3 separate regions of the Homo sapiens genome follow, and regions 2 and 3 are each linked to region 1. The links come from fine-mapping of genetic effects on gene expression. A gene starts in region 1. Each other region holds a variant in brackets. All regions are shown on one strand. Distances are between the middles of the regions.

The links. PIP is the estimated chance that this variant, and not a neighbour inherited with it, causes the effect. A credible set is the group of variants that fine-mapping cannot tell apart.
Region 2: its variant is the best candidate, but not a certain one, in a credible set for the expression of DLGAP4 in whole blood (INTERVAL, PIP 0.52).
Region 3: its variant is the best candidate, but not a certain one, in a credible set for the expression of DLGAP4 in whole blood (INTERVAL, PIP 0.59).

The regions. Positions count from the first base shown.
Region 1 is chr20:36,300,524-36,311,179 of GRCh38, forward strand. DLGAP4 (DLG associated protein 4) reads left to right here and starts at 5,816. Exons shown (of 13, transcript NM_001365621.2): 1 at 5,816-5,989.
Region 2 is chr20:36,650,071-36,660,368 of GRCh38, forward strand. It overlaps NDRG3 (NDRG family member 3), which reads right to left. Exons shown (of 16, transcript NM_032013.4): 13 at 10,267-10,298; 14 at 6,427-6,462; 15 at 6,290-6,341; 16 at 1,701-3,631. The coding sequence ends at 3,450. Among named protein-coding and RNA genes, the nearest start is that of SLA2, 9.0 kb to the left of the region's middle. The variant C/T (reference allele first, on the strand shown) is at 8,210.
Region 3 is chr20:36,583,828-36,588,827 of GRCh38, forward strand. The region is part of intron 2 of TGIF2 (TGFB induced factor homeobox 2); the gene reads left to right. The region is part of intron 2 of TGIF2-RAB5IF (TGIF2-RAB5IF readthrough); the gene reads left to right. Among named protein-coding and RNA genes, the nearest start is that of TGIF2-RAB5IF, 12 kb to the left of the region's middle. RefSeq lists an enhancer at 1,651-2,640. The variant C/T (reference allele first, on the strand shown) is at 3,121.

The DNA of each region.
Region 1 (10,656 bases):
GAATGGATGAGATAAGGTACAGTGTGAAATTGCTACTCCTAGCCTCAATCATTTTGTTCTCTAAACATTTCCCAGGCACCTCCTCCATGCCAGGCCTGATGCCAGCCCCGGGGAAGACGATAACTCAGCCTTGCAATTCACTTTGTGGTTCACAACGTGCTTCCATTATAACAGTCCCAGCCACCCTGCAAAGTAGATGTTTGTGTTGTTTTGGGCTGTGTCCATTTTTTGAATGTGGAAACTGAGACCCAGTGAGGTTGGGTAACTTGCCCAGTCACAGCCAGTGTGTGACAGAGCCAAGATATGAATCCAGGCCTGTTCACTCCAGAGCCCACACTCCCCCACACCGGGAAAACAAATCAAAATAGAGCAAAGGAATACATGACACTTAGAAATTTATTTTGGAACAAATTTGGACAATATAGAAAATTTGGAAAATATAGGAGAGGAGAAAAAAGGAGGTAATTCTGCATAGCTCCCCTCCCCTGGGATACATGTCATTAAGTGTCATTAAAAGTTTGAGAATCTTCTGCTTGTTTTGGCTGAGCCTGGCCAAGTTCATATGATGCAAGCAGCACACGGTATGAACCCAGACTGTCAAATGCTGCCTTTTTAAATTTTTTTGAGGCAGGGTCTCCCTCAGTCACCCAGGCTAGAGTGCAGTGGTACAAACACGGCTCACTGCAGCCTTGACCTCCTAGGCTCAAGTGATTCTCCCACCTCAGCCTCCCAAGTAGCTGGGACTACAGGCATGCTCCACCACACCCAGCTAACTTTTTAATTTTGTAGGGATGGGGTCTCGCCATGTTGCCCAGGCTGGCCCTGGACTCCTGGCCTCAAGCAGTCCTCCTGCCTCAGCCTCCCAAAACACTGGGATTACAGGTATAACTGTGCAGGTCTCAAATACCATGCTTTGATATTAATTTAATGTGGCCTGAACCCCAAGGAGCTACTTCCAGTCTTGTGGGAGAGGAGGAAGTAACAGGTGTGCCTAAGCGGGGGTTCCCCCTAAGTGGACCCTGAAACAGGCACTTGAGTGCAGGTAGTTTATCTGAGAGGTGATCCTAGTCTGCAGGAGGGAGGCAGAGGAGGAGGGAAAGTCAGTCAGATGGGCATTTGCCAGCAGGGCACCACTGTGGGCCACTGGAGCTCCATCTTGCTGGGGACGTTCTGAAGAACAGTGGAAAGCGTGCCTGAGACTGTCTCCCTGAAGGCTCGGAGGCTGCAGCATTTCCTCTGTGACTCTTTTCCCCAAGGGACTGAAGGTTCTGCTGGGGGCCTTACTCTCCTGCATTTCCAAGCCGTCCTGTGCTTGGATGGGACAAGCTCTTGCAACTTCAGAAAATGCCATCAGGCAGAAAAGTGGAGAGACCTGGTGGGTGCTTGCAGCAGACCAGAGTTCAGGAGCTGTCCACCAAGGCTGCAGCAGAATTCAAGATGGGCACCAACAGCATTTGCTTTGAGACGTGGTGTGTCTTTGTCATCATAAAGTGTTTTGGGGGTATAAAACCAGGAATGAGACATAGAATGAGACATAGAAGTCAGGGGTGATTTCCCCAGAATAGGTGACATTCGAGTTGAATTTTGAAAGGTGACTACACAATGGGAGAAGAGGCATTTCAGGTAAAGGCTGAGGTGTGAAACAGCTTGTTGTCTTCAGGAGAAACTGCAGAGCTTGTACCTGAGTCATGGGGTTTGGCCAAGACTGGTTTGGTACAAGCTCAATGTCATCATTAGCTAGATATGGTCATTATCCGGATTTAATCATTATCAAATTACAGACCTGGTTTATATTCCACTTTCACTGCATCTCTGTGGACCTCTCCATCTCTTTTTCTGTCTTTGTCTCTATGAGTTTCTCTCTCTCTTTTTAAAAATACATACTTCAGATACACACAAGTGAGTTAAACTGAGTCCTTGGTTCATGACATGCCTTCAGCATTGGTGCATCAAGTCCTACAGTGTATATAATACAAGATAGTAGAAAGCATAATCTAACATATGCACCTTGAGCCACTGCTCACCCCAAGAACTAGAACAGAATCAGTATCTGACATCTGCCTCTGTGCTGCACCCCATCCCATCCCCCAGCTCTCTGCTGGAGGTCACTAAGATTCTGAATTTTGAGTTTATCCTCCCCTAGTTTCCTTGTTTTTAGTGTTATTACATGCATGCATACCTAATTAATATGTAGTTTGTTTTTACTTGTTTATTAATTTTATGTTAAAAAGTGCCATACTGTATATAGTCTTGTCTTTTCTTTTTAGCTCAATGCTGTTGATGAGCATGTGGCCATGTTGCTGTATGTAATCATGATTTATTTGTTCTGAAGGCTGTATGTGACTATACCATTATTTATTTCTTTTTTTATTCTCCCGTCGATGGACAGTCAGGCTGTCTTCTGGTCTTCTGCTATTGCAAACAGTGCTGTGTGGCTGTTCCTGCGCGTAAATCCTAAAGCTCTGCAAAATGCAGTCTGGGCATCCTCAGCCCGGGCATCACCTGGAAACTTGTTAGAAATGCAGAGTCTGGGGCCCTGCCCTAGCCCCGCCAGAACTGAATCTGCATTTTAACAAGACCCCTGGGGGATTCACTGGCTTATTCACGTTTGAGAAGCACTGGCCGAGTGTACCTCTGCATGGGTTTCTCTTGGGCATACACATCAGGAGTGGAAGTGCTGGGTCGCAGTGGGTGGCCCAGATCACCCTCTCGGCCGCAGCTTCGGAGCTGCCACTGAGCTAGAGCTTCCCCAGCTCTTGGTATTGTCCCACGTTCTCATTGTTGCCAGTCGACTGGGCGTGCAGTGGCATCTCATCATGGTCTTGACTTACATTTCCCCCATGACTAACGAGGTCAGGCACCTCCTCGTATGTTTACTGGCCATATGTTTCCCCTTCTGTGAAACGCCTGTTCCTGTTTTTTGCTCTTTTTTCTTTTAGGCTCACTCTACTCAATCCTGCCTTTGCATATACTGTTCTTTCCATCAGAAATGCCTTCCCCTTTCGCTACCCTGTGTCAGTTCTTCCAGGAAGCCCTCTCTGATTGCTGCTTAGGTTGTGAGCCTCCTCAGCCTCACAGGCAGGAAAACTCGGTGTCATTGTCCCTTCATTCTTCTCCTGAAGTCTCTTCCTCACTGGAGAGACTGTGAACCTATATGGCTTGGTTTGCATAGAGTTAACAATTTTTTCACTCTAGTTGCCATTATTTTCAGGGATTTTCTGAAGTTTTACATTTCAGAAAATCTTAACTGCTAGCTTCTCTTGAAAAAATAAGATATGGCTCCACTGTCTCCTTCCCTAGATGGCAAAATCAGCTAGTGCTGAGTAGGGGCTGCCCCTGCTGGACCATGTGTCACAGTCCCCACAACTCCAGGCTCACAACTTGCTTAAACAACCTGTCCAAGCCCTGTGGGCATTTGGGTTTGTGACCCTTGCCTAAGCGTGCCCAATGCTTGTTCCTCTAAAACTTGCCCTTCCTTCCCCTCCTCCCCATAACCCCATCCTTGTTCCCACTCAGGGCTTTGCATCTCTCCCCTGTGCCATCACACTAGCCTCCTTGACATTCCTTTCTCTAGTCTTGCCTGTTCCAGTCCACTGCCATGTCACACTCCTGCTCAAGAACCAGCAATGGCACCCCCTTGCCTTCCCAGGCACCACCTGACTTTCTACAAAACAAAAAAGTATTACAATAGGAATATTTTATGTCCACAAAAAAGTCTAGAGAACAACATGACAAACACCCATGTGCTCACCACCCCGGCTTAAGACATAAACCACTTCAAGTATATTTAAAGCCCTTACTACAACATTCCCTTCCCTCTCTCCCTCACGGTCACTACTCTCTTGAATTTGCTGTCTATCACTCCCATGCATGCTTTTACACTTGTATTACATATGTATGTGTCGCTAAACAATATATGGTATTGTGTTGTGTGTTTTCAAACTTTATGTATCTGGCATGAAATTATGTTTTCCATCTGCAACTTGCTTTTTCCATCCAACAATATATATTTTTATTTTAAAAATTGTATTGAAGTATAGCATTCATACAAAGAGCACACAAATTGTAAGTGTACAACCCTGGATTTTCACAAACTGAATCAACAGTGTGTTTTTGAGATTCAGCCTCACAATGCATAAGCTTGCAATCACCTATTTTGAGGATTGTGGATCACAGACAGTTTTCCATTGTCTGAATGTGTTGCTATTTATCCAGTTTCCAAATGATGGACATTTAGGCTGTGTCCAGCTTTTCACTATTACAAACGATGCTGCTATGAGCATCCTTGTGCAAGCCTCCCGGGCCCCCATGTGAGGTGTTCTCGAGGGCAAAGCCTGCTCATCTTCAACCTGATCATATATATACCGCCAGGTCGCTGTCCAGCCCCTGGCTCTCGCTGGCTCCCAGCTCATTCGCCAAGATCTTCCCACTGCTCCAGGGAGCCCACTCTCCTCCTTGCTGACACCCTGCCCAAACATGCCACCTCTTTGCCTGCTGCATGCAGGTGTTAAACTCACCTTTCCATCCAGGCTTTACTGAAGCCCTGCCTCTTCCAGGAAGCCCTCTTGGGCAGCGCTGGGCCTCAGGGTGTCATCTCCTCTGAGTGACCTCCTCTCACCCCAGTTGTTAGAGCCAGAGAAGATAGAGACAAACCCAGACCAGACACTGGGGAAAGGGGAATGTGTTCTGGAGAAAGGAAATATGGGTAGACTAGTAGGGAGTGTGAGAAGCTGGGGTACGAAACAGATTGCTCTGGGCCTTGATGGATGAGTAGGAGTTTGTCAGGTAGAGAGGTGGGAGGGCATGGCAGGCACAGGGAAAGGCAGAGGCTGGGCACTGAAACAGTCATCACTGGGTTGGGGATGTGAGCAGGGTGGGTGGGTGGTGGAGGAGACTGGAACAGGGCTGTGAGGAGCCTTGCAGGCCACCCTTTCACGCCATTCTGACCCTTCTGCATTCAGAGGCATTCTCTGGAGATGGCTGTGTGTGGGAGCCAGAGAAGGCAGGCACATTCATTTGACACCTACTGAATGCCAGGCACCGGTAAAGAGCTCATACCCATGATCTCTTTGGTTTCTCACCCAAGTTGGGGATAGAGACTCGTGGTGTCCCCATTTTACAGGTGGAGGAATGGGGCTCAGAGAGGGACAGTCTTTTGTCTGTAACCACAGAGCCAGGAGAGGCAGGGCTGGTACGCAGTTCAGGTTCATCCCACTCCAGAGACTGCATTTAACCCCCGTTCAGCCAGAGGCTAGAAGACACCTGGGAGAGGGTTCTGCGGAAGCAGGTCACCGGGAGGGGGCACCCATTCCTAGAGGCAGGAGCCCCAAGTTCTCGGGGGTGGGGTGGTTCCTGACTGGCGCGGTGTGACCCGGGCCAGTCTCGTTCTCTCTGGGCCTCAGTTTCCCTCCTCCACGGGGCGGCGATGGTCAACACAGGTTCCTGCCGGCCCGCCCCGTAGCCTGGGGTTCCAGGCTCCCGTGCCACCGCGGCCCGCGCTGTGTGACCTTGTTCCAGTAGCCTGCCCTCTCTGGACTGGCGGCCCCGGATTTCCAAGCGCTCTTCCGGATCGCGACAGAGCGGTCGCCCGCTGCGGAGACCCTCCCCCTTCCCCCGGGTTGCGGGGGCGTGGGTGGGGGTGGGGCGCCAGGAACGGCGCGGGCCCCCCCAAGGCCCCCCCAGCCCCGCGCCCGCGGCCCGATCCGCGCCTGGTTTTGGGCGCAGCCGCACGGCCCCCTCCCCCGCGCTCCTCTCCCCTCTCCCCGCCCCCTCCCCGCCGCTCTCGGGGAGCCGGGGCCGCACGGCTCCTCCTCCCGCAGCCGCATCTGGGGCGCCGCGCCGGCCGGAGGAGAGGCATGGGGCGCCCGCGGGCCGGAGCCGGGGCGGGGGCCGGGGCCTAGGCGCGCGGACCTGCGAGCGGACCCGAGAGGCGGCGGCGGCGCAGCGGAACGGCAGAGCGGGCCGGAGGCGGCCGAGGCGCCCGGCGCAGGTGAGGGCGCGGGGGTGGCGCGCGGCGGCTCCTACCCCCTTCCCGGGCCGGCGCGCTCCGTCCCTCGGCTAGACCCCCCGATCTGGTCTCCTCCCCGACAGACCTCCCTGAACCGGGGGACGGCGCTGGCGCAGAAAAGCCCCCTCCCCTGCCAGTTCTGTCTTCCGATCCCGGGTCCGAGGGGCCGGCTGTGCGGCTGGGAAGCGCCTTCTCCGGTTGGGATCGCCCCATCCATGTCTCCCCGGACCCTCAAATCGGGGGCGGCGGCACCGGGGCCCGGAACCCCTGTCCGGGACCGGATCCCCATTCCGGCTCTTTTTCCCGCGGACTCCCCCGTACCCCATATCAAGCGGCTGCCAAAGCCTGGAAGCCCCCTCCTCAGGCCCGCCCCCTAATCCGCAGGGCGGCCTGGGGGTCAGGCGGACCCCTCCCGTGCCCGGCCAACCTTGGCGCTTGGGAGAGCAGGGCTATGCCGGCCCGGGCATTCCTCCATTCAACCCAGCTGCCTCGGATCCCGTCTCGGTAGACCCGGGAGCCGCCGGCTCCCCCCTTCCCGAGCTCTTTCCCTGACCTGGCATCTGGGGAGGGGGCGGGGGCAGCACCCCCCTCCCGCGCTGCATAGCGCCCCCTCCCTGTTTGCGTCCCTGGGAGGGGCTGGGCTGACCCGGGCACCTGGGCTGGGGGGGCACTCACATGGCTACCGGAGGCCCCCACGTGCGGCGCCCCGCGGAGACAGGGGTTCGCGTTCAGAGCTGGTGGCGGATGGACCAGGTGGCCGCGGGGACCAGCTGGGTCCAGATGTGCTGGGCCTGCTGGAAGGGGACAGGTGCTACCTGGACGTGTAATGGCCCTTGGTCTCTTTTGGCCGAACCTGCCGCTCCGATCCCCCTCCATCCCTTCATCCCTCCATCCCTCCATCCCTCCATCCCTCCGGCCCTTCTCCCCTTCTTCCTCCGCTGCCTGTGTTGCAGAGAGGGGCTGTCAGAGACTGTTGATGTGGGAAAAAATGAAATGGGGGAGGGGTTGTGATTGGCAAAGGCCAGTTGTGCCGGGAGCGGTGGGTAGAGGAGGTGCCCTGAGAATGGGAAGCCCTAAGCTTGGAGGGCAGCGCTGATGGGGAGAGGGTTCCTGGCACCCCCACCTGCCTGGAAGTGGAAATGACATAGCGGGAGGGGGCTGCAGTTCCAGCCCCCGGGGGACTGGCCTGCCCTGCCTCTACCTCCACTGCACCTCCTCTCCAAGCCTAGTCCCCAGTAGGGAGGGGGGAGTCCTGGCTCTCTCTGCCTCTGAGCCCTCACTTGTGGGAGGGGGCTGTTTTCCGCCAGCTGGAAGTGGTGGGAATCAGTTGTACAGGACCATCTCCTAGAATGCCTGTTGGAAGAGCCCTGTTTCTGTCCCTCCTTGGTGGCCACCTCTCTCTTGCCTTCTCTGCCAGAGGGCACTGGGCTGCCTGGTCCCAGGGTGGGGCTGCAGAGCTGGTGCCCTGGCCTGGCCGATGGGTGGCTGGAGTGTTGGAGCCACCACCAGGCCCTAGAGCCGGCTGTCGGGGCCAGTCAGCAGCAGACTCCGAGTGTGTTCCCAGCAGCTCCGGAGACGCTGGCTGTGCACGTGGGGCTGGCTAGAGTGCCTGTCTCCCGCTGTGGCAGGGGTAGGCCAGGGATCCTGTGTCCTCCAGGAGCTGGGACAGCGCAACTCAACTTCTGGGAGTGTGCCCGTGTGTGGTGTCCATGGCGACCCCGTACTCACCTGCCAGAGGCCTGGTGAGGCCTGTGCTGGGCGCTGGGGAGTGCAATGGCTGACAGGGTCCCCACCTCCAGGAGCCTCTTTTTTGTTGGGGGAGGCAGCCTGTGTCAGGCATTGGAGACAGTGTCCATGCTGAAGAGAAACTGTGAGCTGGACGGGACCTGATGGCTGGGTTATGTGGAACCCCGGGTGCCAGCCTTGAGATGGAACTGCAGGTCTGAGGGCTGTGCCCCGGGCGTGAAGCTGCCTGGCAGCTGAGTTGGTGTTTTTGAAGGAAGGCTGTGCAGCACTTGGGAACTAGGAGAGAATGTGTGCTTTGGAGCTTTCGGGAGACGCTGACGTATCGGATGTATCGGGGCACCCACTGACATCTCATTAGGTTCTTGTGTGGTTTGTGAGCCACAGGCTTCGTAAATGCCAGCAGTTTCACATGATGGGGAGGCTCTGAGGAACTGTATCCCGGGCACCGTATGTGACAGAAGCAGGTGGTCCCTACCCTCCTATACTTCCGTGATGGGTATTCATTCATTCAGAAAAGCATTAGAAAATCGCATTTGCTAACATCAGTGCATTTGAACACTTTCATTTAAACATTCTGAAATGTGAATTAATAAAATCTTGAATGCAGGGTTTTTTTTTATAGAAAGTACACAGTAGGTACTCAATAAATGTCATGGCTCCCAGGATGAAACCCAACCTCCCCCTCCCCCAACTAGCTACTTTCTAGCCACCTCTTGCTCCCCACCCCCTCCCTCTTTGGCTCGGGTCCCCCTGGCGGGCCTTCAGTTCCTGGAACAGGCCACGTTCCCTCCAGCTTCAGGGTCTTCACACATGCTGGCTCCTCTGCCTGAACATCCCCAGCCCCCTTCTCCCACGTGCCTGTTTCACTACTGCTCATCACCCAAGCTTAAGCATCGCTTCCAAAAGAAAGCCTTCCTCGATGCCCAGGCCAGGCTGTGTCACTGTCACCACCCGCCCAGCCCCGTGGGCCTCTGCTTCATTACCCCGTGCCCATCCTTCTTGGATGTCTCTGGGTGTGGCTGGTGTGGAGAAGGGCAGGGTCGTGCCTGTCTCTTCACGCCATTCCTCTGGTGCTGAGAAGATGTCTTGGCTCAACGTGTGCACTCATCCATTTCTTTTGACTTTTGACGACCTGGTCCATTCTGAGTGGAGGGCTGGGCTCTGGGGAATGGGGGGAGACTTGGCCAGGCCATTGCCAACATGACTGTCCATGTGCGTTCCTGGCCTCCAGCTGGGTCTGCATACCCAGAGGCATTTAGCCAGGATCTGTGGGAGTTACAGGCCTGTAGCCCCTAAAGTCCCAGCAGGTCTGTGGGACCCCAAAGTCTCTACAAGAGGGAGAGGGGCCATGCTGGGGCAGACCTGGCATCTTTAGAGGTGTGCCCCTGGCCAGGCATTTCCCCCTGTGGCCATTCATTTGCTCACATCATCACCTGTTTACCTGTTCAGCCCTTCCTTCACTCGCCAGGTCACTGGCCTGTTCACTCTTCCATTTCCTAGTCCTCTGTCCGTTCTTTGGGCTACTAGTGCTTCCTGAGGCCCACTCAGTGTCCAGCCCTGTGCCAGGCTTGGGGACACAGAGTCAAACCTGTGAGGACCCCACTCTGTAAACTGTAGCCATCCTGCCAGGTGCTTCCTAGTGATGGAGACTGGTGCTGTCCAACCACTGGAAGTGCTTCATAAAGGACATGCGCTGAGCAGGGTTTTGGAGGATTTGGGGATTTGGGTAGATGGAGAATAGTGGGGAAGGACACTGCTGGCTGCAAGAACTGCATGGACAAGCACAGTGGCCCATGCTTGTAATCCCAGCACTTTGGGAGGCCAAGGTGGGAGGATTCCTTGAGTCCAGGAGTTTGAGACTAGTCTAGGCAACATAGTGAGACCCTGTCTCTACAAAAAAAAAAAAAGAAAGAAAGAAAGAAAGAAAGAAAGAAAGAAAGAAAGAAAGAAAGAAAGAAAGAAAGAAAAGAAAAGAATTGCATGGATAAAGGCAGGAAGGCAGCCACATGCTGGTTGAGCTTGGGGATGCTGAGGGTTATGTGTCCTTCTAAGAGGAGGTGGCCACTCCTGAGTGGGCCACAGGGAGGCTGGTGGTGGAGGGAGTAGGGTGCAGTCATGGTCGGCATCCACTCTTCTAGGAGCCCTGTTGCGAATTTGCTGTGTTTCTTTGGATGAGGCGTGTCCCCTCTCTGGGCTCCCTTGATAAAGTGAAGACTTGGACCTGATGATCTCTGAGGGACCTTCTGCCTTCCACTGTCCGAAGTCTGTGATCCTGGGAGCCCTGCATCTTGGGGCATCTGGTGGGCTGTCCTCCCATTTTCTGGACAAGGAAACTGAGCATTAGTTTAGTTTATTAGTAAGGTCTCCAAGGCTGCACAGCTGGTGAGGTGGAGGTGCCAGGGTTTGGATCCAGAGCAAGCCACTGGGTTTGCTGTAGTGGCTTTGAAGGACAGCTTTTGTGTGTAAGCTCCCAGGGCTGGCATCAGCGTGGGGCTGGCGAGGCTTGGCAGTTTCTTCTAACAGATGACCCTGTTGGTTAAGGGAGTGAGGGTGCTGGAGAGCAAACTCACTGGGCATCTTTGAGAAAAGCTGTCACCGAGGAGTCCTGTGTGTTGCACCAAAGACAAGCCCACTTCCTACTTTATCGGAATATGGGGGGATGCTTTGTGACTCACATGACTAGATTTTCTTTCATTGTGACCTATGGGGGAGAGGGTTGCCTGTTCTGTTCCTATATCCCCTCCACAGCGTCTCCTGGCAACTCCTCCAGGCCAGGACTGAAGCCTTTAGGGGTGTGCAGCACGTGCAGTACTCTACAGTTTGCAGAACCCATTTCATCCCCCCATCTTCTAGCCACAGCCAGGGTTAGGAATGAAAAGGGATATTGTCTGCATTTGACAGAT
Region 2 (10,298 bases), 350 kb after region 1:
AGAGCGAGACTCCATCTCAGAACAAAACATAACCAAACAAAAAACAAAAAAAAAGGCAACTGAGGCCATCAGATCAGTTCCTTCCCATGTCAGCATTCTGTGGAGCATTGGCCTGCATTGTAAGGCTTCAGCCTGGTAATCTTTATCTGTTCATATGCATTTGTTTCAACTCCTCTGCCAGAATGGGCATGTCTTTTTTTTTTTTTTTTTTGAGACAAGAGTCTTTCTCTGTCGCACAGGCTGGAGTGCAGTAGCGCTATCTCCGCTCTCTGCTAGCTCCGCCTCCCGGGTTCACGCCATTCTCCTGCCTCAGCCTCCTGAGTAGCTAGGACTACAGGTGCCCACCACCACGCCCGACGAATTTTTTGTATTTTTAGTAGAGATGGGGTTTCACTGTGTTAGCCAGGATGGTCTCGATCTCCCGACCTCGTGATCTGCCCACCTCAGCCTCCCAAAGTGCTGGGATTACTGGCGTGAGCCACCGCGCCCGGTGGTTCATGTCATTTTTTACGAGTGCCTGTCACAGATGTAGCAATCCACATGCACTTTTGCTGGCACTTGCCCCGGGTTACTGAAAACTCATCTGAGATGGTGGTCTTCTGAAATTATTCTTTTTTTTTTTTTTTTTTTTTTTTTCTGGAGACGGAGTTTTACTCTTGTTACCCAGGCTGGAATGCAATGGTGCAATCTTGGCTCACTGCAATCTCCACCTCCTGGGTTCAAGCGATTCTCCTGTCTCAGCCTCCCGAGTAGCGGGATTACAGGTGCATGCCACCACGCTCGACTAATTTTTTTTTTTTTTTTTGTATTTTTAGTAGAGACAGGGTTTTATCACATTGGTCAGGCTGGTCTCGAACTCCTGACCTCCAGTGATCCGCCCGCCTTGGCCTCCCAAAGTGCTGGGATTACAGGCGTGAGCCACCATGCCTGGCTTTTTTTTTTTTTTTTTTTTTTGAGACAGTCTCGCTCTGTAGCCCAGGCTAGAGTGCAGTGGTGTGATCTTGGCTCACTGCAAACTCCACCTCCCGGGTTCAAGTGATTCTCCTGCCTCAGCCTTCCAAGTAGCTGGGATTACAGGCACATACCACCATGCCTGGCTAATTTTTGTATTTTTAGTAGAAACAGGGTTTCACCATGTTGGCCAGGCTGGTCTTTAACTCCTGACCTCAGGTGATCCGCCCACCTTGGCCTCCCAGAGTGTTGGGATTACAGGCGTGAGCCACTGCACTCGGTCTGAAATTATTCTTGATGGGTACAAATATAGCCATTTCTGGAGAAACACAAGCTGGTCTCTTAGAAGACAAGTGGTTGCAGATTATTAAAATGAGAGGTGGAACCCAGCAATCCCACACAGGTGGTGGAGCTGTGACGTGGACCACCTTCTCAAGACCTCAGCTTCTCCTCCTCCATCACAAACAACACTGTCAGGCTTCTCACGATTTTTGGCTTGAGGGAAATACAGACACATCAGATAGAATTCTGCATAATTCCCTGGGATTTGATCCTGGCTGGACTTATTGGCTGCATGACCTTGGGCAAATGATTTATCATCAGTCTTCATTTCCTCCTATAAATGGACAGTGTCGCTTGGTGGATAAGCAATCACATGTGAAAATGGCAACACAGAACCAGCATACAGCAACTCGGTCCTGCCCTGAACCCCAGTGAATGGCTTGAAAGAAATAACACCAGCAATCAGGTAACAATGAGACATATGCAGCTTTATTTAATAATCTGTAAAAAGTCATACTCTGGCAGAGTGATGCATTCCTTATCTCAGCAGAAAGCAAACAGTCTGTCTGAAAAGCCCCTTCCCAAGATTTGGAACTGTGTAACCCTGAGCTTACATCTCAATGCTCCCAAGAGCTGGGCTCTTGCTATGTGGTAGTTGGTCTCCACAATTCTCTCACCCTCCAGCAATACTCTCTGTCTGGCTGTGACTCCCTCACCTAACAGTAGACATGAGGCTGAAAACAACTTTACCTGGACAGGGCTACCCCTACAGATTGGCCCTTTCTCTCCTACAAAAGGGAGTTCATAGGATTAACAATCTTTCTAATGGCTGGGAGCAATGACTCATGCCTGTAATCCCAGCACTTTGGGAGGCTGAGGCAGGTGGATCACCTGAGGTCAGGAGTTTGAGACCAGCCTGGCCAACATGGTGAAACTCCATCTCTACTAAAAATACATAACTTAGCTGGGTATGGTGGCAGGTGCCTGTAGTCTCAGCTACTCGGGAGGCTGAGGCAGGAGAATCGCTTGAACCCAGGGGGCAGAGGTTGCAGTGAGCCAAGTTTGCGCCATTGCACTCCAGCCTGGGTAACAGCGAGACTCTGTCTCAAAAAAAAAAAAAGACTCTGAGAAATGGGTTCTGTATCAATTTAATTTGGCTTCCATTACATCTACTGAAATCAAGGCTATACTTGTTAAACATGATACTGTGTTAATGGCTGTTCCTCTCCCCCCACCCATTTCTCCCCCATCTACATGCTTTTTAGGCCAAACCTCTCCCCTTTCTGGGAACTGAGGAATGGAGACACACTCTCTGTCACAGACCTAAGAGGCACTTCTTGTGGATATGTGGATGTCTGGTATCAGATACTGCAGCGACAGCAGTTTTGCTCTTCAGAGCAGAGGCCTGGCATTTTGTTTCCACCTTCCTGTGCTAAGAGAGTCCAGTAATTAAACCACATTCACTCCTTGGAAAAAACTCTATGTTGTATCAGAACCTCAGCGATGGTTCATGGGCTTCCAGCAGAATATATTCCTCCCTTTTATTTATAGAAGAGTATACAGAAATTCATTTGGACAGAAGGAGCCTCTCTATGTAACAGGCACCCTTCTGCTACTGGTCACAATCAATCAATGGTCCAGACGGCAATTATGATTTTCCACATTCCTCAAAGCTGCTCTCTCCTGAAATCACTTTGCAAATTTTGTTGACCAATTTGCAAACAAAAGAGAATGCAGTGGCCTACCCAACCTAGAAATCTGTTCTGCCTAATTCCCTTAAAAACACCATTGAGAATGCAAAATAAGTCCCTTTTTTGTTTTTTGCAGAAGCACTACAAGAAAGCGTGTCTAAAACCACAGAACTATGCACACACAAACACAGACACGCGTGCTCGCACACACAGAGTCGGGATCAAAGAATCTTATCTGATACATAGTTGGGGGAGCACGGGAAAAAGCTGGCAAGAGAGGATATGGAGAGATCTGATCAGCTAAAGATGTTGGAATGTTACAGTATGGCATGGAAGTGGTTCTTGGGCTATACAAAAAAGGGGGTGGGCAGGCAGAGAGAATGATAAATCCAGGCTACTAGAGAGAGGTTCAGTGGCCATGCATGAGTTAAAGATAGTAGAGGCCAGTTTACTGGATGAAATGTTATATTATGGAGTGGTCATTTGAAGGATGGACTTGCAATGGTCCAGGGGAGGAGCATCTGCTTAGCAGGACACCTCCATGGTCTGGTGTCTGTCCAGGACATCAGGGGACTCACAGGATTCTTGAGTTCCATCTGACTGATTGCTGGTGACAGACCGGCTGAAGGGACTTTCTCCAGAGCCGAGGCTACTCGAGGTTGAGTGGGTTCGTGATCGGGCGAGCCGAGTCATGCTGGCAGATGGTACTGTAACAGAGAACCAAGGGGACTAGAAGATGAAGCCCCGGTTAAGCCCAGCTAACCTAGGAGTCTCATCAAAGTCTTTATGTTTAGCTTTTCCGACTCATTTACCATGACACCCAGGACAAGATATAGCCATCCCCATTTTGTATCATTTGCTCTAGGTGAGTGGCGATATGTGAGGCCACTTTAATCCTTTAGATCTGGTTGGAATCTCAGCTGATTGTAGTCACCGCAGAACAAGGGGAAACCCTAAATCCAGAGTATAGCCTCTTAACTATGCCCACACCATTCAGACAGTGACAGAATGGAGGCTTTGGGAACCCAAACAGGTAACCAAAACCTACAGTGCATGCAAGACTAAACCAAAAGAAAAGAAAGACACACACACAAGTATGAAGGTGTTTCACAAACACAGTGCAAGCCCGATACAACGAGACTACCATCCGTGTCCACAGGCTACCTTGCTACCAGGGAGGAGATTTGTAGGATGGTGCAGGTGAAGGGGAGGGCAGATTGGCTTGGAGCTGACCTCAACACAGGGATGAGGTACAGGTTGCCAGGGACAGAGAAGCAGGTGTTTAACTCAGACTCCTGTTCTGCCACTGCTTGACTCTAAGGTCCTTCCAGCTTGGCTGGGACTGGGCCTTACCTGGCATAGCCTCCCTGCCTATCGTCCTGGGCAGCAGCCACTCCCCTAGCTGTCATTTCAATGCTGGGGTCAAAAGGTGCTATCATCTGCAGAGTTCTCTGGGCACAGGCTCTGACCCTCCTATTTAGAGCCAAGGCTGCCCTTGGATTCCTGTGTCTGGAGGTTAATTCAAGGATCAGTAGGTGGTGGTGGAAGATGGGCCCTGCCTATCAAGTTTCAGCTGCTGCTGTGACCCTGGATTTAGGATGACAAGAGGAGGCCTGCCCCTTACAACCAGATCCTTTCCTCCTCCTGGGGGACCAGGGCTGGACCTGTAGGCTAAATCTCTTGGGGCGTACTGAGCCACGTTCTATCGGGCTCTCACTGCATAGGAAGACCGCGGACATGCTGCAGGCAGCCAGTGCAGCCAGGAGAGACTGGAAGGCGGGGCAGGGCCAGCACAGAGGAAGGTACCTGACTCGGTGCTCAGGTGACTGAGCTGCACATACGGGACTGGAAGCAGGATGGACACAGGAAAAGGCAGGTTAGTGACCCCAGAGTGCCAAGTGGCAACCTCAGCTGCCTGGTAGACACTGACAGAATACTCTAAGCCAGGGATAAAATTTTATTTTAAGGTCCCAGAGAGGAGGTGAGGCTGACAGATACTTCAATAACATCTCAAATGTTACTTTCCTCAACTAGACAAAGGCAATTGTTTTCCCCTCTGCTATAAACAGTCATCTTGCTTTGGATCAGAAGTGGGCTGGAAGATCAGCTATTTCATAGGAAAAGGATAAGAATGGACTAGGAGAGGGCCTCCTGCTCCTCCCAGTGAGCCACAGGGCTGTGGGTGTGGGCTCGGTTGGTAGCGGCTCACAGGCAAGGATGACACAGCCACTTGAGACAAGACATACATGGTCTGCCTGGCAGGTACAGGGCTGCACCCAGGGCCCAGCTGCCCAGAGCAGCTGACCAGACAGCTCGCCAATGACCATTATCCACACTAATACCAAAGACAGGAGAAAAATCACCCTACTGGGTAAAGAGCTCTGTACCTGGGTGAAAGAGTTTTTCTAAAAACTCCAAGAAAGGAGCAAGTGTAGATAATTCTGTGACCATGAAAAAGCTCAGAGGTCTTACAATACAAGAGACCAGGACAATGGCATATGATATGGACACACCCTTGGACTTGCTCTAAAACACTCTCCAAGTTCGTCCCCTGGGGTGGAGGAGACTTTACCAAGGATACTGCCCTTTTCTCCTGGAGTCTCCATTTCATTTCTCTAGGTCAGGAGTTATTAACCAGCTGAGTTTAAATGCAAATCATAATTTCAGATTCACACCTAGGACAGCCTAAGCTGCAGGGGTTCAAAATGTGGGCTCTGGAGTCAGACTGTCAGGGTTTGAATCATGGCCCTGCAGCTGAATTTTTACCCTTGGCAATGTGCTTAGTCTCTTTGAGCCTCAGTTTCTTCTTCTATAAATTGGCACTAATAACAGAATGACTTCTTAGATTAAGAATATATAGGTTGGGCACGGTAGCTCACGCATGTAATCCCAGCACTTTGGGAGGCCAAGGCAGGCAGATCATGAGGTCAAGAGATCAAGACCATCCTGGCCAACATGGTGAATCTCCGTCTCTCCTAAAAATACAAAAATTATTCGGGTGTGGTGGCACATGCCTGTAGTCCCAGCTACTTGGGAGGCTGAGGCAGGAGAATCGCTTGAACCCAGGAGGCGGAGGTTGCAGTGAGCTGAGATCACACCACTGCACTCCAGCCTGGCAACAGAGTGAGACTCTGTCTCAAAAAAAAAAAAAAAAAAAAAAGAATATATATTGCCTGATGAAAGTAAGTGCTGAGTGTTAGCTTACAAATACGGACAAATGAATGTTCCATAAACATTTCAGTTTCTACTTTGCTTAAGGCTAGCTGCCACAGAGGTTATATCTCAAGAATTGTGGGCTCCCAGATGTGAAACTGGCTCCCAATATTCCTAAATCGTTGCTAGATAGAAAGTTGTGTACTACTCACTGTAGCCCATTCCCTGCAAAAAGTACTTGAAGGCCTCGGTGAGCTTCCCAGGCTGGGGGGATAAAACAAGAGGGCATTAATTTTTGCATAGACAGAGAAGCAGAATTAAATGGGTGTTTAAAAAAAATTCTCCTTACCTGAACTACCTGGGGCAGTCCCCCACAGTCCGCCATCTAGAAAAGGAAAAATATGCAAGTCAGCTGGGACTTACCCTTAAGAGAATTGCTCTGAACACCCCAAGTCCTTTCAAACAGAACAAGATTGAATTCTAGGTTTTAATGTTTAACTGCAAGTTTGCATCTCAATGCACCTACGTACAAACATTTATAACCTTGGATGAAAATCTGAAATAATTATTACATACTTATTTATCAATAAGACTGAAGCCCTGACTTTCAGGCCCATGGTGGGAATTTTCTGTTGAGGTGATAGTGAAGTTAACCACTACTCTCAACCATGAAAACCACCTGAAGAAGGTTCCTTTCAGAGCCCTCGAACAGTGTGACCCTAACTTCTCTGTGCATCAAGCTTTCCAAGTCCCATTTCAACTCTACATTATCTTTCCTCCGTGAGTAAGGGCACTCTGCCATCAGGAGCTGATACTGATTCAGCCGGCTTGCTCAGTCAGCCACTTTCCTCTAATAGCTGGGTTTGGTAATGCTGCTTTTCACTTCATAAACATTTACAGCTGGTTATTCTCACGTGTGCAAGGATTTCTAGGGTATGGCTTCATTAGTGTGCCCTGGAATTACCTGAAGGACTTGTTAAAACTCAGATTCTTGGATTCCTATCCCAGAGATTCTGATTTGATAGGTTTGGGGTATGGTTCGAGATTGTGCATTTCTGGCCGCGCGCAGTGGCTCACACCTGTAATCCCAGCACCTTGGGAGGCCGAGGTCGGGGGGATCACCTGAGGTCAGGAGTTCCAGACCAGCCTGGTCAGCATGGTGAAACTCCATCTCTACTAAAAATACAAAAATTAGCCGGGCGTGGTGGCACACACCTGTAGTCCCAGCTACTCTGGAGGCTGACACAGAAGAATCACTTGAACTCATGAGGCAGAGGTTGCAGTGAGCCAAGATCATGCCACTGCACTCCAACCTGGGCGACAGAGTCCGTCTCCAGGAAAAAAAAAAAAAAAGGAACGTACATTTCTAATAAGATCTCAGGTGATTTGAATCTACTGTCCACAGAAAAGCGTTTTTAGGGCATGTTGGCCATAGGCCTGCTCTCTTTCTTCCAGCTGTTACACACTCTGGACTCAGATGGTATTCTTCAGGCTGACTGGCTTTTTTTAAAAAGGAACATGAACCCCATGGTTTCAATTCACTGGCATTAAAACTTATTATGAAGGGGGACTACTACTGAGGAGAATGCCACAGAAGACGCAGAAGTTTGAGATTAACAAGGGAGAGGCCCCTGAAAATTCTAAGCATAAGATTATAAACAAACATTTAACAAATATACAAAAAAACCAAACCAGCACAGACTGTATTTTCATGAAGTTTAGGAGCTGAAACCTGATTAGAACACAGAACAGTTCCCATATGCAGAGAGAATACTGGGAGAAACTATTTCCAAGATGGGTACCTATCAAATGGTTTGAGAATCAGTTCAATCTGCCATAGGAGTTATCCACTCTATTCTATGGTGTTGTAGATGGGCATTTTTGCGAAAAATAACTATGTCTATGGTTATTGTAGGGTTTAGTTTTATGCTTTTGTATATTGATTCAAACCTGAAATGAGAAACTAATTTGAAACTATAAACTTAAAAAAAAATTTTTTTTGAGATAAAGTCTCACTCTCGTTGCCCAGGCTGGAGTGCAATGGTGCAATCTTGGCTCACTGCAACCTCCACCTCCCAGGTTCAAGCGATTCTCCTGCCTCAGTCTCTGGAGTAGCTGGGATTACAGGTGCC[C/T]AGCATCATGCCCGGCTAATTTTTGTATTTTTAGTAGAGATGAGGTTTCATCATGTTGGGCAGGCTGGTCTTGAACTCCTGGCCTCAGCTTCCCAAAGTGCTGGGATTACAGGTGTGAGCCACCATGCCCAGCCCCTCCCCAAAATTTTTAGACCAGCCCATCAATTGCCTGGAGGGCAGAACATTTTGAATGTGGTCACCTCAGAGCATTAACTTCACATTAGATTTCTAGGAACTACAGGCGTTTGTGGTAACAGCACTTCCCTTTCAAACACACTTCAAAGGGAAAAGGAAGATGGCAGAGGTCTTTCAGACTGAAAATGTAGCAGTAAGCAACATACGATCGGCATTGAAATCTACAGTAGTCCAAGTTCCCAAGTTCAAACTAGAAGGTCAGCTACCTCAACACTTTAGTAGAGGCTCTAGGAAAAGCTAAGATGAAACAATGACAGGCAGAAACTCTTGCCTCGGTTATACTCAAAAGGGGAGACACTTGATACTAACTCTAGATATTTAGCATAAGAGTTGGTCTGTATTTGCCCTAAGAGAAAGAAAATGCATCCACCCTCATCATAAGAATTGTTACTAAAAGCTTCCTTACCAATACAGCAGGATTTTGCATATACAGAATTTACATCCATTATCTTCTCACAATATTAAATCATGTTGACGAAGTTTTTTTTTTTTTTTTTTTAGAGACAGGGTTTCACTCTGTCACCTAGGTTGGAGTGCAGCATCAGGAGCACAAATCCTCGAATTCCTGGGCTCAAGGAATCCTCTCGCCTCAGCTTCCTGAGTAGCTGGGGCTACGGATGCGCACCACCAAGCCCAGCTAATTTTCTTATTGTTTTTGTAGAGACAGAGTCTCACTATGTTTCCCAGACTGCTCTCGAACTCCTGGCCTCCCACCTCGGCCTTCCAAAGTGCTGGGATTATAGGTGTGAGCCACTGCACCCAGCCAAAGTTTTTAGTTACATGGGAAAGGCTATGTCATAAAGTTGAGGAAAACAGATACAGGGTTGTAAATACTCTTTGACAGGGTCTCATTCTGTCACCCAGGCTGGTCTCAAACTCCTGGACTCAAGTGATCCGCCCAACTCAGCCTCCCAAAGTGTTGGGATTATAGGTGTGAGCCACCGTGCCCAGCCCGTCTCTAATTTTAATGATGTAAAAATGTATAGGAAAAAGACAGCAGTATTTTACCAGAGGTTTGGGTGGTAGGATTACAAATAATTTAAATTTATTTTATTCCATATGCTTTCCTCTTTTTTGCAGTGTTTTACAATGAGAACATATTCAGGAAAAAAGCTTTATTTTATTTATTTGTTTATTTATTTTTGAGATGGAGTCTTGCTCTGTCGCCCAGGCTAGAGTGCAGTGGTGCAATCTCAGCTCACTGCAACCTCCGCCTCCCAGGTTCAAGTGATTCTCCTGCCTCAGCCTCCCAGGTAGCTGGGACTACAGGCGTGGGCCACCATGCCCAGTTAATTTTTGTATTTTTAGTAGAGACGGGGTTTCACCATATTGGCTAGGCTGGTCTCAAATTCCTGACCTCGTGATCCAACTGCCTTAGCCTCCCAAAGTGCTGAGATTACAGGTGTGAGCCACCGCACCTGGCCAAAAGGATTATTTTAAAAAGAGAATGAAGGCTGGGTGCGGTGGCTCACACCTGTAATCCCAGCACTTTGGGAGGCCAAGGTGGGTGGATCACGAGGACAGGAGATCGAGACCACCCTGGCTAACACGGTGAAACCCCGTCTCTACTAAAAATACGAAAAATTAGCCGGGCATGGTGGCACGTGCCTGTAGTCCCAGCTACTCAGGAGGCTGACGCAGGAGAATTGCTTGAACCCGAGAGGTGGAGGTTGCAGTGAGCTGAGATGGCGCCACTGCACTCCAGCCAGGGCAACACAGCGGGACTCTGTCTCAAAGAAAAAGAAGAGAATGAGATAACCAAAGAGAGGGAAGCTTTGCTCCTTTCTAAGCAATTATTCCAGAAAATATGATTAATCTGAAGCACATATAAGGGTTGGAAGTGAGGGAAGAAGGCACATTACCTTTAGCAAAGTTGTATTTATAGGGTTCAGGC
Region 3 (5,000 bases), 280 kb after region 1:
CGGAAGTTGGAATGAGCCGAGACTGAGCCACCGCACTCCAGCCGGGGCAACAGACTGAGACTCTGTCTCAAAAAAGAAAAGAAAAAAAAACTAGCTGGGCGTGGTTGCAGGTACCTGTAATCCCAGCTACTTAGGAGGCTGAGGCAAGAGAATTGCTTGAACTCGGGAGGCAGAGGTTGTAGTGAGTTGTGATTGCACCATTGCACTCCTGCCTGGGCAACAGAGCAAGAGTCCATCTCAAAAAAAAAGAAAAAAAAATTCAATGGCTTTTGCCAGCCTAATGACATCACCGGCCCGTGTCTACATCTTGAACCTCAACCCTGGTCCCCTACATTCCCACTACATTGATCCACCTCCCCAGACCATTTTCCTCCCACCCCTGACCAGGAGGCTCCCAGTCCCTAAAGGAGCTGTATGCTCTCACAGCAGATAGATGAGGTCACAGCACTGGGACACTAAACTGTAATTGCTTTTAGACTGCACCAAATTCTAGAGGTGTGGAGAGCACTGACCTAGTGTTCACAGTTACAGCCCTAGTGTAGCATAGTGCTTGGTATCTGGTAGGTAGGTGCTCAGTAAATAATGTTGAAGTGGCAGAAAAGGGCTATAAAGTGGTGGAAGGGTCAACAGGCAGGACCTCAGAAGTAAGGAAATGTAATGGCTCCTAATCATGAAAAATAGCCTAAAGCCTGGGAGCATCATTTTTTCCTGTATTTATTAATTAATTTTTTTTTTTTTTGAGACGGAGTCACTCTGTCGCCCAGGCTGGAGTGCAGTGGCGCAATCTCAGTTCACTGCAACTTCTGCTGCCCAGGTTCAAGCAATTCTCCTGCCCCAGCCTCCCGAGTAGCTGGGATTACAGGCACCTGCCACCAGGCTGAGCTAATTTTTGTAGTTTTAGTAAAGACAGGGTTTCACCATTTTGGCCAGGCTGGTCTCGAACTCCCGACCTCAGGTGGTCTCACTTCAGCCTCCCAAAGTGCTGGGATTACAGGCGTGAGCCACTGCTCCCGGCCTCCTGTATTTAATTTTTTAAATTTCATTTTCCATTAAGGACATTTAAGAATATCTATAAAAGCTGAACGCAGGCTGGGCACAGTGGCTCACACCTATAATTCCAGCACTTTGGGAGGCCGAGGCAAACGGATCACCTGGGGTTGGAAGTTTGGGACCAGCCTGACCAACACGGAGAAACCCCATCTCTACTAAAAAATAGACAATTAGCTGGGCATGGTGGCGCATGCTTGTACTCCCAGCTACTCAGGAGGCTGAGGCAGGAGAATCACTTTTGAACCTAGGAGGTGGAGATTGCCGTGAGCGAGATCCTGCCATTGCACTCCAGCCTGGGCAACAAGAGTGAAACTCCATCTCAAAAAAAAAGAGAAAAAAGCTAGGCACAGTGTCTCACGCCTGTAATCCCAACACTTTGGGAGGCTGAAGCGGGTGTATCACTTGAGGCCAGGAGTTGTAGACCAGTCTGACCAATGTGGTGAAACCCCGTCTCTACTAAAAATAGTCCCAGCTATTCGGGAGGCTGAAGCAGGAGAATCACTTGAACCCGGGGGTGGTGGAGGTTGCAGGGAGCCAAGATCATGCCACTGCACTCCAGCCTGGTCTACAGAACGGGACTCTGTCTTTAAAAAAAAAAAAAAAAAAAAAAACTCCACAAAAGTAAGAGAATATAATAATCAACCACCAGCACCAGTCACTCGGCTTGAACAAGTATCAACATTTTGCCAAGCTTGTTTTATCTCTCCCTGGGGACATCTCTTTTGATTGTCTCCTTTAACCCTCCCAGGAGCGATTCATTAGCAAGTCAATGACTCAACTAACTGGTTTGCTGGTACTTGCCTGGGGCTAGGCAGTTGGGAGGGTTAGGGAAAAAAGTAGTTTGTAAAGGATTTTCACAGGTCCCTTCGACATCCTCTAAGCCCAATTTATTGGTTGGACTAGATCTGTGGCTACCTGGCAGGGTTCTGGGCCCCAATCCTTTACTGTAACAATGGTTGGGGATATACCACGTGCCAGGCCCGGGACTCTGTGCTGGGTATACAGTGGTAGAATGGGTACCTTCCCATTACTTCCTGGCTGTCAGGACTCCTTTCATATGCAGTTTCCTGAGGGAAGCCTTCCCAAAGCCCATACCGGGGCAGGGGCAGCAGTCCCCCTGGCGAGGGCTGTTGGGTGAGAAAGGAACCTGGTGCAGAGGCTGTAGTGGTCAGCTGTGGGGGAGGAGTGTCCTGGCCTAGCCCCCAGGGCAGCCAGGGATGTAGGAGCTGCTCTCCTCTGGCTCCAAAGCTAGCTGCCCTCTGATTCCTCCCACAGGCAACTTCTATTTTTCCCCATCTCAAGGCCTTTCATCTGTGTGTATGTTTTTTGAACTTCTGTGTAAGCTTTTTGGCTTAAATAAAGGGCTTGGCCTGCAAGGACAAGTAACCAGTAGGCTAAACCATTGGTTCCTAAGCCTGGGCGGCCAGACTTTCTGGGTAGCTGGTCTGAAAACACATTGCCAACTCCACCCCTCACCCCCACTAGATCAATAAAGCAGAGGGGGAAATCACTAACAGTTTTTAAAAATCTCTCCCAGGCTGGGTGTGGTTGCTCTGCCTGTAATCCCAGCACTTTGGGAGGCCAAAGCGGGCAGATCACTTGAGGTCAGGAGTTTGAGACCAGCCTGGCCAACACGGTGAAACCCTGTCTCTATTAAAAATACAAAAATTACTTGGGCATGTTGTCGTGTGCCTGTAATCCCAGGTACTTGGGAGGCTGAGGCAGGAGAACTGCTTGAACCCGAGAGGCGGAGGTTGCAGTGAACTGAGATCGCACCATTGCACTCCAGCCTGGGCAAAGAAGTGAGACTCCATTTCCCCCCCCCCAAAAAAAAAAATCTCCCCTAAGGTGATTCTAATACAGAGAGCTGCCTTCAAGAGCACCTGGATATGGTAGTCTCAGTGTGAATGGTGGTACCATGATGTTTGGGAAAGGCGCCTCAGTGCCTTTGCTTCCTTGACACAAAAATGAGAGGGTTTCTGCCTGCATTCATTAGCTGCTGCTCCCAGCATCACAGCCTTTGTCAGCCTCCTGGTGTTCCTCCCACCCCCATTTGCCACAGTGATTCCT[C/T]CCTTGTTCCTCAGCAGCCTCTCAGATAGAGCCCTGTTTTATGGTAGAGACCGGCTTTCCGGTTCCCAGCCTGTGTTTTGCCATATACATCACAGAGTTCACTTTGACCTTCTTCCTACCATCTCCCCAAGGACCTTGAGTGGAGACAAGTCACAGGTTCTTTTCCTGACTTAGGCACAGGCTGGGCAGCTGGAAGGGCTGCAGAAGGGGCACTGGCAGCCACTCAGTCCCCCCGCGTTGCCTTGCCCAGCCCCTCAGCTGTGCATTTTTCTGGGCTAAGAAGACAAAACAGACAGATGCTAGGCTGCCAAGTGATCTGGACAGGACAGTCTTGTGGGGGAGTGTGTGGAGGGGTGTTTTTCTGTTCTTGAACCCTCAGCCAAAGTGGGAAGTGCCTTTAGGGGCTAGGTGCCCACACAGATGCTGAGAAATGCCCAGACTGCCCTCCATGAGGCTGCCTGCTCAACAACACTCCTTACTTTGCTTGACCCAGGTCACTGTGACCTGCCCATTTTTCCCCTGCATCCAGGGCTGAGGTGGAGAGGGGCAGTGTACTCCTGCAGCACAGGTATGGGAGGAGGCAGCTGTGGGAGGGAGGGAGAGAAGGACACAGGCACTGCTCCTGTGCAAGGAAGACTCCCTCTCACTCTTCAGCTGGCAGTGGGGTGGCTGCCCAGAACCAGGCTGTCTGGATCAAACCCAGCTTTTGCACTTGTGACCTTCAACAAGTTTCTGAACCTCTCCGATCTGTTTCTTCAAGGGAGATCATCATATAACCTGTGTGATAGGCTGAGATTGAATGAATAATTAGATATGAAATGTGAATAGTGCCTGAGGCCAGGCGTGGTGGCTCACACCTGTAATCCCAACACTTTGGGAGGCTGAGGTGAGCAGATCATTTGAGTTCAGGAGTTTGACACCAGCCTGGCCAACATGGGGAAACCCCATCTCTACAAAAAATACCAAAAAAAAAGTACCTGGGCATGGTGGCACATGTCTGTGGTCCCAGCTACTCGGGAGGCTGAGGTGGGAGAATTACCTAAACCCAGGAGGTCAAGGCTACAGTGAACTGTGATTCCACCACTGCACTCCAGCCTGGGTGACAGAGTGAGACCCTGTCTTTAAAAAAAAAAAAAAAAAGCACAGCAAAGCAGTGGAGGCCCTAAAGCCAGGAGGCCTGGTTTTAAATCCCAGCTCTGCACTGGGAAGATGTGTGACTGGACAAGAGCTTTCTTCTCATTGAGCTCAGTTCTCTCTAGTACTTTGGGGACACTGCCCTCTACCCTCCAGGCTTGTATGCAGATTAAACATAATGCAAGTGAGGTGGCTGGCATGATACTGCTATCAAAGGTGTTTGAGTAAGTTTGTTCCCTTCCTTCATCCCACCTAGCTGTTGAGCCCTTCCTTCTTTTTTTTTTTTTTTTTTTTTTTTTTTTGAGATGGAGTCTTGCTTTGTCGCGCAGGCTGGAGTGCAGTGGCGCAATTTTGACTCACCGCAACCTCTGCCTTGTGGGTTCAAGCAGTTCTCTCAGCCTCCTGAGTAGCTGAGACTACAGGCACATGCCACCACACCCTGCTAAGCCCTTCCTCTCTTTAGGGTTTTCCCACAGCTCTAGTCAGGATTCAGCTCAACCAGCGTCCACTGAAGCCTGTTGGTATGTGTGTGCATTGGAGCACCATAGTGGTGAAGAGGGGCAAATAAGGACCCCAGAGCCAGGGCCCCTCCTGGCTGGAATGGAATGGGAGAGAAGGGCCACAGAAGCTTCTGGCTCTGCCCTGCCTATGAGCCTTCCAGCCCGACAGCCTGGTGCTGTCTTTGAGTCACCTGTGGAATAGATGCAGCTGCAGTTAGCTAGGTTAGGAGAAAAGACAGGACCAGA